Regions from separate parts of the Homo sapiens genome. Here regions 1, 3, 4 and 5 are each reported to be linked to region 2. The links are microRNA targets in miRTarBase. Many come from high-throughput screens and were not tested one by one. Region 2 holds a microRNA gene; each other region holds the end of a gene's coding sequence. Distances are from middle to middle.

Region 1 (3,000 bases), not on the chromosome of region 2:
AACACGAGACTTTCTTTGACACCCAGAAGACCCGGCAACGAGGAGGAAGGCCTCGCGGTGAGGCAGAAACCTGGGACAGGGGGCCATTCCAGGGTCTGTAGTCAGAAGGCCAGGCAGGAAGGCACTCCCATCCTCAACCATCCCTTCCAGGACTAGCGCGCTCCCTCAGCCCACCTCCCCACCACCCACCTACCTGCATCCCACATCTGCACTGGTTTTCACCCCCAGGAGCAGACTATGTACCTTTTGCAGAGATGGCTGTGCTCCGAGAAGCCATCCTCAGCAACTCTGACTTCTAGGCCCTGCAGATACAGGGGCCCTCTGGCCTTCCCAGCTCCCACCCTAGTCCCCCGGGGCTCCCTGGTTCACACGGTCTCCAGCCTGGCCTCCCTTCTGACCCCCATACCTGACCCTTTCACCTCTGCTCTTTCTTCCTCCAGGGACAGACACTGTCAGCAACTGGCACAGGCCTTTGTGAGTCTGGCCCAGATCAGCAATAAAAGAGGAGTCATTGGAACCTGACTTGGCTCTATATGGGGCAGGTAGATCCCAGCCCAGGGAGAGACTGCCTAATAACTTAGAGTTGACACCTATTAGACACAGGAGAAAGCCTGGATCTGGCCATCTGCCTCCATCACACTCACATTCAAGCTGCCTGTTGAAGGAAAGTGGCTTCAAGGAAGTCAAGAAGGGAGGAAGTTTCAAGAAGGATAGAGTGGGAAGTGATGTTAGATGCAGTTGGGGCACCAATAAGATAAAGACTGAAAAGTGTCCATTGGGTTTTGCAATTAGAAGATCTTTGGGAACATCGGAGAGTGCAGTTTCACACTGGTGCAGTGGAGGCAGGAGTCAAACAGCAGTGAGTTTCAAGGAGTCTCTTAAAGAAGCTTGGATGAAAAGTACAAAAGTAAAGTCAGACAATATCCAGAGGGAGTTGTGGAGTCAAGGAAGTACTTTTGTAGGAAGGAAAAGGGGAAGAGGCCAGTAGACTAAAGGACCTTGAAGGACCCAGAAGAGAGAGAAGAGATGCCTGGTGAGACAAGATCCCAGAGATGGAGGAAAGGGATGAGGTCAAAGCAGAGGTGAAGGGATTTTCTCTGGACAGGAGAAACACCACTTCCTATGACCAAGACGAAGGAAGAGGATGGAGCCTTCCTAGAGTTTCAGGGAACAAGAACCTGTGGAAGTTCCCCTCTGATGGCTTCTATATGCCCTGTGAAGTAGGAGATAAGGCCAATGGCTGGGGTCCAGGGGAAGAGGGATAAGAGTAGGGAGCAGGAGACAAGAAGAGAAAGGGGAAGGTTTGGGAAGGCTAATGTAGGGAACTGGAGAAAAACCTCATCAGTGGGTAGTTCAGGATTCGGGCACAGTTGGAAGTGAGAACCTAGTTAGAGAAGCAGAGAATCCAAATATTTAATGGGTTGATGATGTGAGGGTGTCAGGGAGGAAGATCAGGAAAACTAAGCAAAAGAAGGCATGAGGATGTGAAGGGAGCATACAGCACCAATAGGGAAAGAAAGTGATGCCAGGAGGCAAATGACAGATTGAAAAAGGGAGCAGTCAAAGGAAGAGAAGTCTCTAATGAGGTACAGTAGCAGACGTAGGGGCAGGGGTTGGAGTACAAGAGACAGTGTTCAGAGGCTGCAGAGCATAACATCTTTCAGATGAGGGCAAGTGAAGGTGATAAGTGCTTGAAGTAGAGAAAACTGTGGGCCAAGGATCAAAATCAGTGAATGTGGGAAGTCACAAGGGAGTCCATAGGTTCTTATGGGAGTAGGAGATTCCAGCACTAATGGGCTCTGTGAACCCAGGCAAGTCACTGTCCCTCTTTAGGCTGAGTTTCTGGACCTGTAAAACAGGAATAACCTCTGTGTTGCCTACTTTCTATGAGAACCAAAGAAATAACTAATTTCAAAGTGCTTTGTATCCACCTATCCTCCAGACTGGCTTCCTTCCTCTTCCTAGATCCCAGATCCACTTATCTCTCGCCCTTCTCCAGGGCAACTCTAGGGTCTCCCAGTGTCCCAGAGGCACCACAGAGAACTGCAGCCTCTGGGGCCCAGAGAAGAGGCCATTCTACATTTCCTCACAATTAGGGGGGCCATCTGTTCCTCCAAGGGAAGGAATGCAATCTGGACTGCTAGGATCCCTGGGGAAAATCACAGAATCAAATGTCTGCCCTTTAGAGGAGAAAGGATTTTCTAACAATAATATAGCTATACAAAAGAGATTGTTATATCTCTAGAAGCAAAGTTCCCCAACAGTGGTTATATGCCCCATGATAACCATTCACCTAAAACTAATTCAACTAATAGTCAACAATAGAGTTAGGATTACTATGATAAACTCATTGAAGGAAATAATAAGCAGCCAATACAAACTATATTTACGTAGACTGTAAAAATATGAAAAATTGATTACACATGGGTTAGTATCATATGCAATACATATTACATATTATGAAAAAAAGACAGGAAACACCAAATGTTATTCATTCAACAATTACTGACCACCTATATGTATCAGGTCATGTGTTTAAAAAAAAAAAAAAGAAAAAAAGAAAAACCAAAGAAACAGTGGTAACTTGTCCTATGTGATATCAGACTAAAACTTACCTAGCGTCTGAGAATATTAGTATTTTGTGACCCCACGTTTCTTATGTCAAAAATATATATTCCAGCAGTGCAAACCTGACTTATTGGTGCCTCATACCTGTAATCCCAGCACCTTGGGAGGCCGAGGCAGGAGGATCACGAGGTCAGGAGATCGAGACCATCCTGGCTAACACGGTGAAACCCCGTCTCTAATAAAAATACAAAAAATTAGCCGGGCGTGGTGGCGGGTGCCTGTAGTCCCAGCTACTCGGGAGGCTGAGGCAGGAGAATGGCGTGAACTCGGGAGGCGGAGCTTGCAGTGAGCCGAGATCGCGCCACTGCACTCCAGCCTGGGCGACAGAGCGAGACTCCGTCTCAAAAAAAAAAAAAAAGAAAAAAGAAAAAA
Region 2 (4,263 bases):
AGGACAATGGCATGAACCCGGAAGGTGGAGCTAGCAGTGAGTCGCGATCGCACCACTGCACTCCAGCCTGGGCGACAGAGCAAGACTCCATCTCAAAAAATAACAAACAAACAAACAAACAAAAAAGTACTAATGAGAGGCCGGGCGCAGTGGCTCACACCTGTAATCCCAGCACTTTGGGGGGCTGAGGTGGGTGGATCACAAGGTCAAGAGTTCAAGACCAGCCTGACCAACATGGTGAAACCTTGTCTGTACTAAAAATACAAAAATTAGCCAGGTGTGGTGGCACGTGCCTGTAACCCAGCTACTCAGGAGGCTGAGGCAGGAGAATTGCTTGAACCTGGCAGGCAGAGGTTGCAGTGAGCCGAGATCAGGCCACTGCACTCCAGCCTGGGCAACAGAGCAAGACTCTGTCTCAAAAAAATAAAAATGAAATAAAATAAAACTGTTAAACAGTACTAATGAGAAACAGTCTATACGTGTGTGTGTGTGTGTATATACATCTGTCACCCAGGCTGGAGTGCAGTGGCGCGATCTCGGCTCACTGCAAGCTCCGCCTCCCAGGTTCACGCCATTCTCCTGCCTCAGCCTCCCAAGTAGCTGGGACTACAGGCCACCACCACCACACTCGACTAATTTTTTTTTTCTTTTTTTGAGACGGAGTCTCGCTGTCGCCCAGGCTGGAGTGCAGTGGCGTGATCTTGGCTCACTGCAGGCTCCACCCCCCAGGGTTCACGCCATTCTCCTGCCTCAGCCTCCCAAGTAGCTGGGACTACAGGCGCCCGCCACCTCGCCCAGCTAATTTTTTGTATTTTTAGTAGACAGGGTTTCACCGTGTTAGCCAGGATGGTCTCGATCTCCTGACCTCATGATCCGCCTGCCTCAGCCTCCCAAAGTGATGGGATTACAGGCGTGAGCCACTGCGCCCGGCCACACCTGGCTAATTTTTTGTATTTTTAGTAGAGACGGGGTTTCACGGTGTTAGCCAGGATGGTCTCGATCTCTGGACCTCGTGATTCACTCGCCTCAGCCTCCCAAAGTGTTAGGATTACAGGCGTGAGCCACCACGCCCAGCCCCTATATGTATATTTTTTGAAACAGAGTCTCACTCTGTTGCCCAGGCTGGAGTGCAGTGGTGCAATCTTGGCTCACTGCAACCTCTGCCTCCCAGTTCAAGCAATTCTCCTGCCTCAGCCTCCCGAGTAGCTGGGACTACAGGTGCATGCCACCACGCCCAGCTAATTTTTTATTTTTAGTAGTGACGAGGTTTCACCATGTTGGCCAGGCTGGTCTTGAACTCCTGAGCTCAAGTGATCCGCCCAACTTGGCCTCCCAAAGTGTTGGGATTACACGTGTGAACCACCGCACCTGGCCGACAGTCTGTATTTTACAGCACTTTTTAACTTTTCCTTTTTCCTGAATTAGTTGGTTTTCATTATCTTTTTTTTTTTTTTTTTTTTTGAGATGTTGTCTCGCTCCGTGGCCCAGGCTGGAATGCAGTGGCACAATCTCAGCTCACTGCAACCTCTGCCTCCTGGCAGAGTTCAAGTGACTCTCCTGCCTCAGCCTTTTTTGTAGCTGGGATTACAGGCGTAGGCCAGCACACCCAGCTAATTTGTGTATTTTTAGTAGAGACAGGGTTTCACCATGTTGGCCAGGCTGGTCTCGAACTCCTGACCTCAAGTGATCCGCCTGCCTCACCCTCCCCAAAGTGCTGGGATTACAGGTGTGAGCCACCATGCCTGGCCTGGTTTTCATTATCTTTATGAGGTGAATTTACTGGTAGGACAAAAAGGAATTAATAGCCTCATTTTATAGATGGGGAAAATAAGTAAGATTTACCCAAGGCCACCGCGCCATGGGGTTTTGCCATGTTGGCCAGGCTGATCTCAAGTGATCCACCCACCTTGGCCTCCCAAAGTGCTGGGATTATAGGCATGAGCCACCATGCCCAGTCTAAGTTCAGAGCTTTTTGCTCTACACATCTGCATTTCCCCTTGCTCCCTTGTAACTCATCCCATTCCATCTAGTAACTCTTCTTGTCCAGAACAGTATTTTCTTTTCTTTTTTTTTTTTTTGAGACGGAGTTTTGCTCTTGTTGCCCAGGCTAGAGTGCAATGGCACGATCTTGGATCGCCACAACCTCCACCTCCCAGGTTCAAGTGATTCTCCTGCCTCAGCCTCACAAGTAGCTGGGATTACAGGCATGTGCCACCACGCCCAGTTAATTTTGTATTTTTAGTAGAGACGGGGTTTCTCCATGTTGGTCAGGCCGGTCTTGAACTCCCGACCTCAGGTGGTCCACCCACCTCGGCTTCCCAAAGTGCTGGGATTATAGGCGTGAGCCACCATGCAGAACGGTATTTTCATAAAAAGCATGCCCTTTACTAAAGGTATTTTCCCTGTGCCTGTCAAATGGTGTTCATCTTCCTCCTGGACCACGCCCCCTCTCTCTACAACCCTTCCCTGTATGACCCATCCAGCTTGCTCACACCCTCCTGCTCCACCCCTCCACCCCCCTTAATACTGACATCATATTAGGGCATCTGAATTGGCTTCTGGGCCCTAGCAGGCTGTCCAGTGTGTGCCATCAAACGGGTTTTTAGAATGTGGGGACAAAGTTTCTTTCTCCTGTATTCCCCGCTCAGCTTATGAGAGTACAGGGCCAGGCTCAGTGGCTCATGCCTGTAATCCCAGCACTTTGGGAGGCTGAGAAGGGAAGATCACTTGAGATCACCCTGGCCAACATGGTGAAACCCTGTCTCTACTAAAAATACAAAAAGTAGCTGGGCATGGTGGTGCACACCTATTATCCCAGCTACTCGGGAGGCTGAAGCAGGAGAATTGCTTGAATCCAGGAGGCGAAGCTTGCAGTGAGCCAAGATCGCGCCACTGCACTCCAGCCTGGGCGACCGAGAGACTTGGTCTCAAAAAAAAAAAAGGGGGGTGCCGACAGAAAGTATCACCTTCCGATTCTCCTGCTCATCCCAGTGAAACCAGGAATTTTTTTTTTTTTTTTTTTGAGATGGACTCTCGCTCTGTTGCCCAGGCTGGAGTGCAGTAGTGCAGTCTCGGCTCACTACAACCTCCGCCTCCCAGGTTCAGGCAACTCTCCTGTCTCAGCCTCCCGAGCAGCTAGGACTACAGGTGTGTGCCACCACACCCAGCTAATTTTTGTATTTTTAGTAGAGACGGGGTTTCACCATATTGGCCAGGCTGGTCTCAAACTCCTGACTTTATGATCCATCTGCCTCAGCCTCCCAAAGTGCTGGGATTACAAGCGTGAGCCACCATGCCCGGCTCAAAATAGGAATCTTAACCTAACTCTGTCCCACAACTGACCGATAGCAGCTTCAGTCCTCCAATCTGTCCAGTATGCCGAAGGTGGGGGCCCTGGCAAAGGTCAACCAATGTGCCACACCTAGGAGAAAGAAGAGGCCAGTTAGTGATTTTCAGAATCTTCAGCTTCTAGCTTTCTCCCTCTCATGGTCTTTAGCTGACAGAAGAGGTGAAGAGAAAGGAACTGTCCTACTGAGAGAGGGCAATGGCAGATAAAAATCAATTCCCTGGCAGGGCGCGGTGGCTCATGTCTATAATCCCAGAACTTTGGGAGGCCAAGGTGGGTGGATCACGTGGTCAGGAGTTCGAGACCAGCCTGGACAATATGGTGAAACCCCGTCTCTACTAAAAATATAAAAATTAGCTAGGCATGGTGGTGCATGCCTGTAGTTCCAGCTACTCGGGAGGCTGAGGCAGAAGAATTGTTTGAACCCGGGAGGCAGAGATGCAGTGAGCCGAGATCGCGCCACTGCATTCCAGCCTGGGTGACAGAACAAGACTTCATCTCAAAAAAAAAAAAAAAAAAAAAAACTAGCCAGGCATGGTGGCACATGCCTGTAATCCCAGCCACTCTGGAGGCTAAGGCAGGAGAATCACTTGAACCCAGGAGGCGGAGGTTGCAGTGAGCCGAGATCGTGCTACCGCACTCCAGCCTGGGAGACAGACCAAGACTCCGTCTCAAAAAAAGAAAAAAAAAAAATCAATTCCCATTCCCATTTCTTTTTCTGGAGCAACACAAATTACCTTCTATCTTTCTTCCCTTATCGCATTTCTGGCCTTCTTCAATGCTTCCCCACCTCTCTGTTTGCCTTAATCTTGACAACTCTTACCCATATACTGTTGCTGTTGGACCTGTCACTTTCTCCTCAATCAAGTGAAGCTTAAAGGGGTTATCCTGGAAAAAGGTAGAAGGGAGATTGAAGA
Region 3 (3,000 bases), 130 Mb from region 2:
TTTTGTAGAGACAGGGGTCTCACTACATTGCCTGGGCTGATCTTTTTTTTTTTTTTGAGACAGAGTCTAGCTCTGTCACCCAGGCTGAGTGTAGTGCTGTGATCTCGGCTCACTGCAAGCTCCGCCTCCCAGGTTCAAGCCATTCTCCTGCCTCAGCCTCCCGAGTAGCTGGGACTACAGGCGCCCGTCACCATGCCCAGCTAATTTTTTGTATTTTTAGTAGAGACGGGGTTTCACCGTGTTAGCCAGGATGGTCTCCATCTCCTGACCTCGTAATCCGCCTGCCTCGGCCTCCCAAAGGGCTGGGATTACAGGCATGAGCCACCGTGCCCGGCCTGAGCCTGGGCTGATCTTGAGTCTTTGGGCTCAAGCAATCCGCCCACCTCAGCATTCCAAATTGCTAGGATTACAGGTGCAAGCCACTGCATCTGGTCTGAAACCTACATTTTTAACCATTAGCTTTTCCTGGCTCCTTGGCTGCCCACCCTGGAGACAGCCCAACCCTGTGTGTAGTGGCAGGGTTTCCCTCTCCCTGCTGTCCCTAACCCCCTTCTCCAGCTTGGGTATTATATGGTTATGGCTTCCCTTTAGTGAGCACGTTACGTGCCTGGTCTGCAGGCAAAGTGCTTCACACAATTTCTAATTCAGACAAGCGGCCTGAAGTCTGAAGCTGAAAGGCTGGGTGACTGACCTGGGTTTACCCAGCTGCTGAGCAGCAGATGAGTGGCTCTGAAGTCAGCTGTCTAAAGCTGAGACAGCGTGGAGGCAGGGCTTTAAAGCCCAACGGTCATGGCTGTTTGCAAGCAGTAATGCAAGGCATACGTGAATAACCAGAGCCCAGTTAGCGGCGGGGCCATGGCTGGGAGGGGCATGATTAGTCACTGTGCAGCAGAAATGTGTTGAAGTCTAGCTGTCTCCCTTACAGGGCATGCATAGGGACGTGGTCATCCTGGATGGAGCAATTGGAGAAACTGGCAGCAGCAAAGGGACCCTGGACTCGGCTGTCACAGAGGCCGCCGACCAAGCCTGGCACCTGACCATCCCACTACCTCCTCCAGGTCTGGCTAGACCTGGCTCAGGTGCGGAGGGCACCACCTGCCACCCTTCATTCTCTCCCCCTGGCCAGTTTTGGCCTTAAATGGTTGTAGGCTGCTTTCCCCTCTCAGCCCGGTTTGCAGATCCTCCCCTACACTCGTGCAGTCTTCCCAGTCATCCTCACAAGGCGAGAGGGCCGGGCCTGAGCTCTCCTTCAGCACTTCCTGCTGAGGCTGGTGCTTGACCTGGCCTAGGCCTGGGTGAACATGGTGAATTCCTCTTCTGCCCGAAGCCTGCTTCCTGCTGTCCTTCCCAAGGGCGTGGTGAGAAGTGGGCGGGAGTAGGAAGTCTCCAAAGAACAGAGGCACTGAGAGGGTGTCAGAGGCACAATGCCGTTGTGAAGGTCACCCCACACCGTGGGACCCAGCCTGACCTCCCAACAGCAGGGCTGGAGGTGGCCCTCTTCCATGCATGGCAGAAAAAAGAGGGCCACTGTACACCCTGAAGCTGATTTACTCTCATTCAGAACTGCTTTCATGAAATACAAATAGAACAATGTGGGCTGGATGCGGTGGCTCACACCTATAATCCCAGCACTTTGGGAGGCCAAGGTGGGTAGATCGCTTGAGCTCAGGAGTTTGAGACCAGCCTGGGCAACATGGTGAAACCCCATCTCTCCTTAAAATTTTAAAACAGAAAAATCAAAAACAAACAAAAGCAAATAGAACAAGGTGGACAAAAATCTACCATTAGAGTCACCAAGGATAAAACCTCCCAGGATGCCGTGGACACTTTAGACGCTGGCTCTCAACTCTTGCAGTGATGTCACTCTCAGCCCAAGGCTGTCTTCCTGGCATCCATCAGATCCGCAGCCCTGGTTTGGAAGTGTGTGGAGGGCTAGGAAGGATACCTAATTTTCCTCAGCAAATCCCTCTGCCAAGGGGTACCCAGGACTGAAGAGAAACCCCAGCTCTGGTGTGGAGCTGTGCTGTCATGGCAGTGCCAAGGCAGCCAGTGGAAGTTGGCTGACAAGGCAAACTGAGGCAATCCACGCAGAATTCAATGGCCACCCAGGCTGGAGTGCAGTGGCATGATCATGGCTCACTGAGCCTCCAACTCTCAGGCTTAAGCAATTCTCCCACCTCAGCCTCCCAAGCAGTGGGGACCACAGGCAAGTGGCACCACGACTAATTTTTTTTTATTTTTTGTAGAGACGGGATCTTGCTGAATTGCCCAGGCTGGTTTCAAACTTCTGGGCTCACCAAAGGCCTCTTTTCTAAGAAAGAGCCCTCTCCCTCCTCTCCCTCTTGCTGTCTCCAGGAGAGACATCCTGCAAGGTTGTATTCTTTTTTTTTTTTTGGGACAGAGTTTTACTCTGTTGCCCAGGCTGGAGAGCAGTGGTCCAATCTCAACTCACGGCAACCTCCACCTCCCGGGTTCAAGTGATTCTCCTGCCTCAGCCTCCTGAGTAGCTGGGACTACAGGCACATGCCACTATGCCCAACTAGTTTTTTTTTCTATTTTTAGTAGAGACGGGGTTTCACCGTGTTAGCCAGGATGGTCTTAATCTCCCGACCTTATGATCTGCCCACCTCGGCTTCCCAAAGTGCTGGGATTCCAGGCGTGAGCCACCGCGCCCGGCCCACAGTTTTATTCTTTACAGGAGGTCAGTGCCCATCATGTTCCCTGTCTACAGACAAATAAAAAGCTGCTCTCTCCAGAGGGGCGGCAGCAGTCCTGATGGTCCAGTGAGACCCAGAAGCTTCCAGGAGACCTTCAGTCCCGAGTCCCTTTCAGTCATCATCTTCTGAGTCTGACTCTTCTGTGGACTCAGATGCGCTCTCTGGCAAGTCGTCTCCCATCTGCTGGAACCTTCCCGACTGTGAATCCCACATGTATTTGATGGTCACCTTGAATTCAGCCATCTCATACCCAAAAAGCTTCTGCAAGAGACAAAGGGAACAA
Region 4 (3,000 bases), not on the chromosome of region 2:
TTAATTTCTGTGCATGCAGCTTAATGATAAAGAAGAAGCTTTGGCTCATCAAAGAAAAGTTAGCTACATGCTTGCTCGGGCATTGGAAGACAAAGACACTGCTTCAAACGAGAATAAAGAAAAAAATCCTATAAAAGAGAATTTCCCTTTCAACAACCCCTGGCGTAAGACTTCAGAATTCTCTGTTTTGGGTGATCCTATACATTCAAGTGTCTGCATTTTAAATTCTGTGGGCTGCATTTGTTCAATCCAGCACTCTCAAATAGATCCAAACTATAGAACTCTTAAAAGATCCCATTCTTTGCCATCAAGTATCATATTTTAAAGACAAGCCAGTTGAAATTGGAACTGAGAGTTGTTTATATCGAGATACTTTGAAAAATGATTTTGTAAATTTTGCTGCATCTTGAGAAGTTGTATGTTTCCTAGGTATTTCTAAATTTTAGGAGGTCACTTAAATCAAATATTTTCTACATTTTCTTTTTCTTCTTTTGAGATGGAGTCTTGCTCTGTCACCCAGGTTGGAGTGCAGTGGTGTGATCTCGGTTCACTGCAACCTCCGCCTCCCGGTTCAAGCAATTCTCCTGCCTCAGCCTCCCGAGTAACTCGGATTACAGGCATGTGCCACCACGCCCAGCTAATTTTTGTATTTTTAGTAGAGACGGGGTTTTACCATGTTAGCCAGGCTGATCTTGAACTCCTGACCTCAAGTGATCCGCCTGCCTTGGCCTCCGAAAGTGCTGGGATTACAGGCGTGAGCCACCACACCCAGCCTATTTTCTACATTTTCTACAAGAAATTAGTATTCTGTGTTGACATTTTATTTATAAATTACATTACTGTATTTATAAATTACATTACAGGCTGGGCATGGTGGCTCATGCTTATAAATCCCAGCACTTTGGGAGGCCAAGGTGGGTGGGTCACCTGAGGCTGGAGTTCAAGACCAGTCTGACCAACATGGAGAAACCCCATCTCTACTAAAAATACAAAAAATTAGCTAGGCCTAGTGGCGCATGCCTGTAATCCCAGCTACTTGGGAGGCTGAGGTAGGAGAATCGCTTGAACCTGGGAGGCGGGGGTTGTGGTAAGCCGAGACTGTGTCATTGCACTCCAGCCTGGGCGACAAGAGCGAAACTCTGTCTCAAAAAAAAAAAAAAACACATTACAGTGTTTGCCAACATCCTAAAACAAAAAATAATGATTTTTGGGAAAAACAAAAAATTATTTAACTATTTTGATTGACTATAGGGATCTTAGCTTGGCTAAATCAACAATATAGCAATGTATCTTAATGCTCTAAAAAGTAACAATACCTAGGACTGACTGAATGTTAATTTCTGGAATTCATTTATCTTGTTTTATTTGCCTTGTTCAGTATTTTTCATTTACCATATGAAGTTTAGAAATAACAATTTCCTTAAGTTAACTTCAATAAGACAGTTTTGATGGTGGGACCTTGGCAGAAGTATATTGAGTCAGTGCCGGCTGCGTTCATGGCTTCTTGTCAGGGTAGTAACATTTTGCAACCAAATCTGCACAGATTTGTAGCCAAGTCTACAAAGTGCTTAACAGCTCTTTTCATTGCATCCTGTGAGATGGTTGTGATGATCCAGGAAATGGGGTCTCAGGAATCTGAAGAAGCTGCCTGAGCCAAGGTGATTTCTAGGAGTTTTTTTGTTTGTGGTATGTGAATTGGGGTGTGTGGGGGTGGGGTGTGTGTGTAGACAGGGTCCCACTGTGTTGCTCAGGCTGGTGCCAAACTCCTGGCCTCAAGGGATCCTCCTGCCTCAGCCTCTCAAAGTGCTGGGATTACAGGCATAAACCACAACTCAATAAAAAAGTTTTTAAAAATTTACAAAGCTCATATTTGATCCAGCTAGGATTTTACCCTGTACATTTGTATTTCTTGTAGGCTGGCGCACAGATATCTTAAATGGCTACTAATTGCTGCTGTGTATGAAAACAAATGGCTATCAAGGCCGGGTGCAGTGGCTTACAGATCTGGTCTGAATCTCAAGTCCAGACCAGTCCAGAGTTCAAGACCAGCCTGGGCAACATGGTGAAACCCCATCTATACAAAAACTCGGCAAGGCATGGTGGCATGCACCTGTTGTCCCAGCTACTCAGGGGCTGAGGCAGGAGGATGGCATGAGCCCAGGAGCTTGAGGCTGCAGTGAGCTGTGATTGTGCCACTGCACTCCAGCCTGAGTGACAGAGTGAGACCCCCATCTCCAAAAGAAAAGGCTATCAATACAAAAGTTTATCTAAATTACTGTACAGCTATACAATGGAATACTCTACAAAATGGAGAGATCCATAAGATAAAGCAAATGAATAAAGCAAAATGCATGTGTTGACAGCTGTTGTGATACCTCAGTTCTTGTCTTCTTGGTTTAAAAGAATTTAAATGAGACAGCAAAGGAGATGCAGCATAATTTATTGCAAAAGAAAAGGAGTATTTTGAAAGTTAGGTGCAGAACAGACAGTACACCTGAGAGAGAGAATTCAGGGCCGGCTGCTCGTAAGGGTGAGACAGCATTGATTATTGCTGGAGAAACTCCCTTTATGGGAGTTTTGCATTATTATTCATAAGGAGGTGAGGTGTTGCAGTAATCATGTCCTGGGTGGTCCTCTGCACAGGTGCAGTAGCTGTTAATGCTTGTTCATACACCACATGTCTCAGTAGCATCTTAAATTTCCACCTAGAGGTGTGTTTTTTATTATTATCATGTGCAAAGGATCAGTTTGAGGACAGGTAAAATCAAAATGTGTATGCTCTCTAGAAGGGAAAGTCCCTACTGAAGATAGCTTTGCTTAAATGAGCTCAATTACAATGTGAATGCTGAGGTTTATTGTGTTGGCTGTATGGTCATGAGAAAATGGTCATTTCCTTGACTACCTGATACGGTTTGGCTGTGTCCCCACCCAAGTCTTATTTTGAATTGTAATCCCCATAATTCCCACATGTTGAAGGAGGGACTTGGTGGTAGGTGACTG
Region 5 (3,000 bases), not on the chromosome of region 2:
GTGGAAGACTTGAGGAACATTCTCAGAAGGCAACTGGGTGAGGAGTCCCAACCAGCCCCATCTTGTCTCTCTGGCCCACAGGCCCTGTGCTTTGGAGTCCTGGGAGTCCTCTTCATGGCCGTCAGTCTAGGCTTTATGTTTGCCAACTGGGCCACAGGCCAGAGCCGCATGTCTGGACACTGATCAGGCCCTGCTGGCCCAGGTCCCTGTGCGCATGCACATGGAGGGGTCAGGGCCGCTCCCTAGGGTCCCTCCTGCCCAACATGTGGAGGTGGCTGGTTCCCATGAACGTGGTTGTCAGAGGCGGGGGACAGCAGAGGCTGCAGACTGGCCCACTTCCCTCCTCCCCAGGGATGCCAAGCTTGGATCATGGCCCTAATCCCAACCCCAACCCCATGGGAGGAGGAGGAGGAGGAAGAAGAGGAGGAGGAGGAGGAGGAGGAGGAGGAGGAGGAGGCCAGGTCCTGGTGGAGCCTTTGCCCAGCCCAGTCCTCTCTGCCTCCTCCTGGCTGAAGCTGTTTGTCAGGATTACCCTCGGGCTAAAGAGGAAAAATAAAGATGTTGAGCTACCACTCTGGACTCAGCCTTCTGATCTTTCTCTTAGTCTTGCTGGGGGAGCCTGCCGGAGTCCAGGCTGGAGCAAACTGAAGCCCTGCGAGTGGGACTGTGCCTGATCATGCATTCATTCACTTCACTCTTTCAGTAACTTGCTACTCAACTTAATATTTCACCCACTTGGCCAGGAGCAGTGACTCACGCCTGTAATCCCAGCACTTTGGGAGGTTGAGGCCGGCGGATCACTTGAAATCACAAGTTTGAGACCAGCCTGGCCACCATGGCAAAACCCCGTCTCTACTAAAAAATACTAAAATTAACTGGGTGTGGTGGTGCACGCTATAGTCCCAGCTACTTGGGAGGCTAAGGCGGGAGAATCGCTTGAACCCAGGAGGCGGAGGTTGCAGTGAGCCGAGATTGTGCCACTGTACTCCAGCCTGGGCGACAGAGTGAGACTCCATCTCACACACAGAAAAAGACTTCACTCATTCACTCGGTAAACATCTCCTGAAAGCCTACTGGGTGCCAGGCACTATTCTAGGTGCTGGGGATATAGCAGTGAACCAAGCAGACAATAGTGCCCTGGAGTTGATGTTCTGACACACGAGTGGGCAAATCCATCCTGCTGCCTATTTTGGTATGGCCCTTGAACTAAGACTGGCTTTCATATTTCTAAATGATTGAAAAAAGGTGGATCCAGCATGGTGGCTTATGCCTGTAATCACCAGCACTTTGGGAGTCTGAGGCAGGAGGATCATTTGAGAGCAGCCTGGGCAACACGGCAAGACCCCATCTCTACAAAAAATATTAAAAGAAATAGCCGGGTGTGATAGTGCAAGCCTATAGTCCCAGCTACTTGGGAGACTGAGGTGGGAGGATCGCTTCAGCCCGGGAGATTGAGGGTGCAGTGAGCTATGATCACGCCACTGCACTCTAGCCTGAGTGACAGAGTGAGACCCTGTCTCAAAAAGAAAAGGGGCTGGGTGTGGTGGCTCATGCCTGTAATCCTAGCACTTTGGGAGGCCGACGCGGGCAGATCACCTGAGGTAAGGAGTTCTAGACCAGCCTGGCCAACGTGGTGAAACCCCGTTTCTACTAAAAATACAAAAATCAGCCAGGCATGGTGGCACGCGCCTGTAATCCCAGCTACTCAGGAGGCTGAGGCAGGAGAATCGCTTGAACTTGGGAGTCAGAGGTTGCAGTGAGCCAAGATCTCACCACTGCACTCCAGCCTCTGTCTCAAAAAAAAGAAAAGAAAATGAAAAAATATTATTAAAAGAAATAATATTCTGTGACACTTGGAAATTATGTGAAATTCAAATTTCAGTGTCTAAATCATTTACATATCAATTTCAGTGTCTAAATTATTTACATATCATTTACAGTGTCTTCTTCATTTACATATTGTTTGTGGCTTTCTCGTGCAGAGCTGAGGATTTGCAACAGAGACCATATGGCCTGCAAAGCCTGAGCTATTAACTCTCTGGCCCTTTTCAGAAAATGTTAGCTGACCTCTGACCTAACAAAGAGAATAAAAGAGAAATCATTCCTCATAAAGATGGTGCAATGAAGAAAATGAGCGATGTGAGAGTGGTGTGGGGAGGTGGTGGGTGAGGAGGCATTCAGCGAGACTTCACTAAGGAGGGGGCAATGAATTTGGTCCTAGGTTGGCTGAAAGGAGCAAGCCTCATGGTTATTTTGGCAAAGGGTGTTCCAGGCAGAGGGAGCAACAGGTGCAAGGGCCCCGAGGTAGGAACGAGCATGGCTGGTCCAAGCAAGAGCAAGGAGAAGCTAGCATGAGTATGTGAGTGCCATTTTCACCACAGCCTTGTCAACAGCCTGAGCAATGCAACAGATTTTTGTCAACCTCATAGAAAAAATGGTATTGCCATTACACTTCACATACGTGTGTGTGTGTGTGTGTGTGTGTGTGTGTGTGTATTTCTAATTCTTTAATTTTTAATTTTTAACTGTTTTTGAGACAGGGTCTTGCTCTGTCATCCAGGCTGGAGTGCAGTGGTGCCATCACGGCTCACTGAAGCTTTAGCCTCCCAGGCTCAAGCTATCCTCCTGCCTCAGCCTTCTGAGTAGCTGGGACTACAGGCATGCGCCACTATGCCTGGATAATTTTTAAAATTTTCAGTAGAAATGAGATCTCTCTATGTTGCCTAGGCTGGTCTCAAACTCTTGGGCTCAAGTGATCCTCCCACCTTGGCCTCCCAAAGTGCTCGGATTACAGGCATGAGCCGTATTTATGAAATAAGGTTTTTTTTTTTTTTTTTTGGCAGGGTTTCACTGTCATCCAGCCTGGAGTACAGTAGTGAGATCACAGCTCACTGCAACCTCAACTTCCCGGGTTCAAGTGATTCTCTTACCTCAGCCTCCCAAGTAGCTGGGACCACAGGCATATGCCACCACACCCGGCTTATTTTATTTTATTTTATT

What was found. The annotated mature microRNA hsa-miR-6878-3p reads CUGGCCUCUUCUUUCUCCUAG and lies in region 2 at 3,422-3,442, opposite strand. An mRNA with a match to its seed (bases 2 to 7 or 8) in the 3' UTR can be bound and repressed. Matches are read on the target gene's strand: a 7mer-m8 pairs with bases 2 to 8, a 7mer-A1 pairs with bases 2 to 7 and ends in A, and an 8mer does both.
Region 1: the mRNA of FAM221B is a reported target of hsa-miR-6878-3p. Seed matches in the 3' UTR shown: 7mer-m8 at 978-984, 7mer-A1 at 1,231-1,237 and 7mer-m8 at 2,068-2,074.
Region 3: the mRNA of MRTO4 is a reported target of hsa-miR-6878-3p. The part of its 3' UTR that is shown has no 7-base or 8-base seed match.
Region 4: the mRNA of CCDC125 is a reported target of hsa-miR-6878-3p. Seed matches in the 3' UTR shown: 8mer at 906-913.
Region 5: the mRNA of SLC38A5 is a reported target of hsa-miR-6878-3p. Seed matches in the 3' UTR shown: 7mer-m8 at 454-460.

What each region holds. Positions count from the first base shown.
Region 1 is chr9:35,815,947-35,818,946 of GRCh38, reverse strand. It overlaps FAM221B (family with sequence similarity 221 member B), which reads left to right. Exons shown (of 7, transcript NM_001012446.4): 6 at 1-57; 7 at 441-2,556. The coding sequence ends at 478. Among named protein-coding and RNA genes, the nearest start is that of HINT2, 2.4 kb to the right of the region's middle.
Region 2 is chr1:150,491,569-150,495,831 of GRCh38, reverse strand. It overlaps MIR6878 (microRNA 6878), which reads right to left and starts at 3,487; the gene lies at 3,422-3,487. TARS2 (threonyl-tRNA synthetase 2, mitochondrial) reads right to left here. Exons shown (of 18, transcript NM_025150.5): 6 at 4,170-4,234; 7 at 3,343-3,421.
Region 3 is chr1:19,258,659-19,261,658 of GRCh38, reverse strand. MRTO4 (MRT4 homolog, ribosome maturation factor) reads right to left here. Exons shown (of 8, transcript NM_016183.4): 8 at 1,531-2,978. The coding sequence ends at 2,829. Among named protein-coding and RNA genes, the nearest start is that of MRTO4, 8.4 kb to the right of the region's middle.
Region 4 is chr5:69,280,054-69,283,053 of GRCh38, reverse strand. CCDC125 (coiled-coil domain containing 125) reads left to right here. Exons shown (of 12, transcript NM_176816.5): 12 at 20-2,879. The coding sequence ends at 325. Among named protein-coding and RNA genes, the nearest start is that of CDK7, 47 kb to the right of the region's middle.
Region 5 is chrX:48,456,116-48,459,115 of GRCh38, reverse strand. SLC38A5 (solute carrier family 38 member 5) reads left to right here. Exons shown (of 17, transcript NM_033518.4): 17 at 82-572. The coding sequence ends at 183. Among named protein-coding and RNA genes, the nearest start is that of SLC38A5, 13 kb to the left of the region's middle.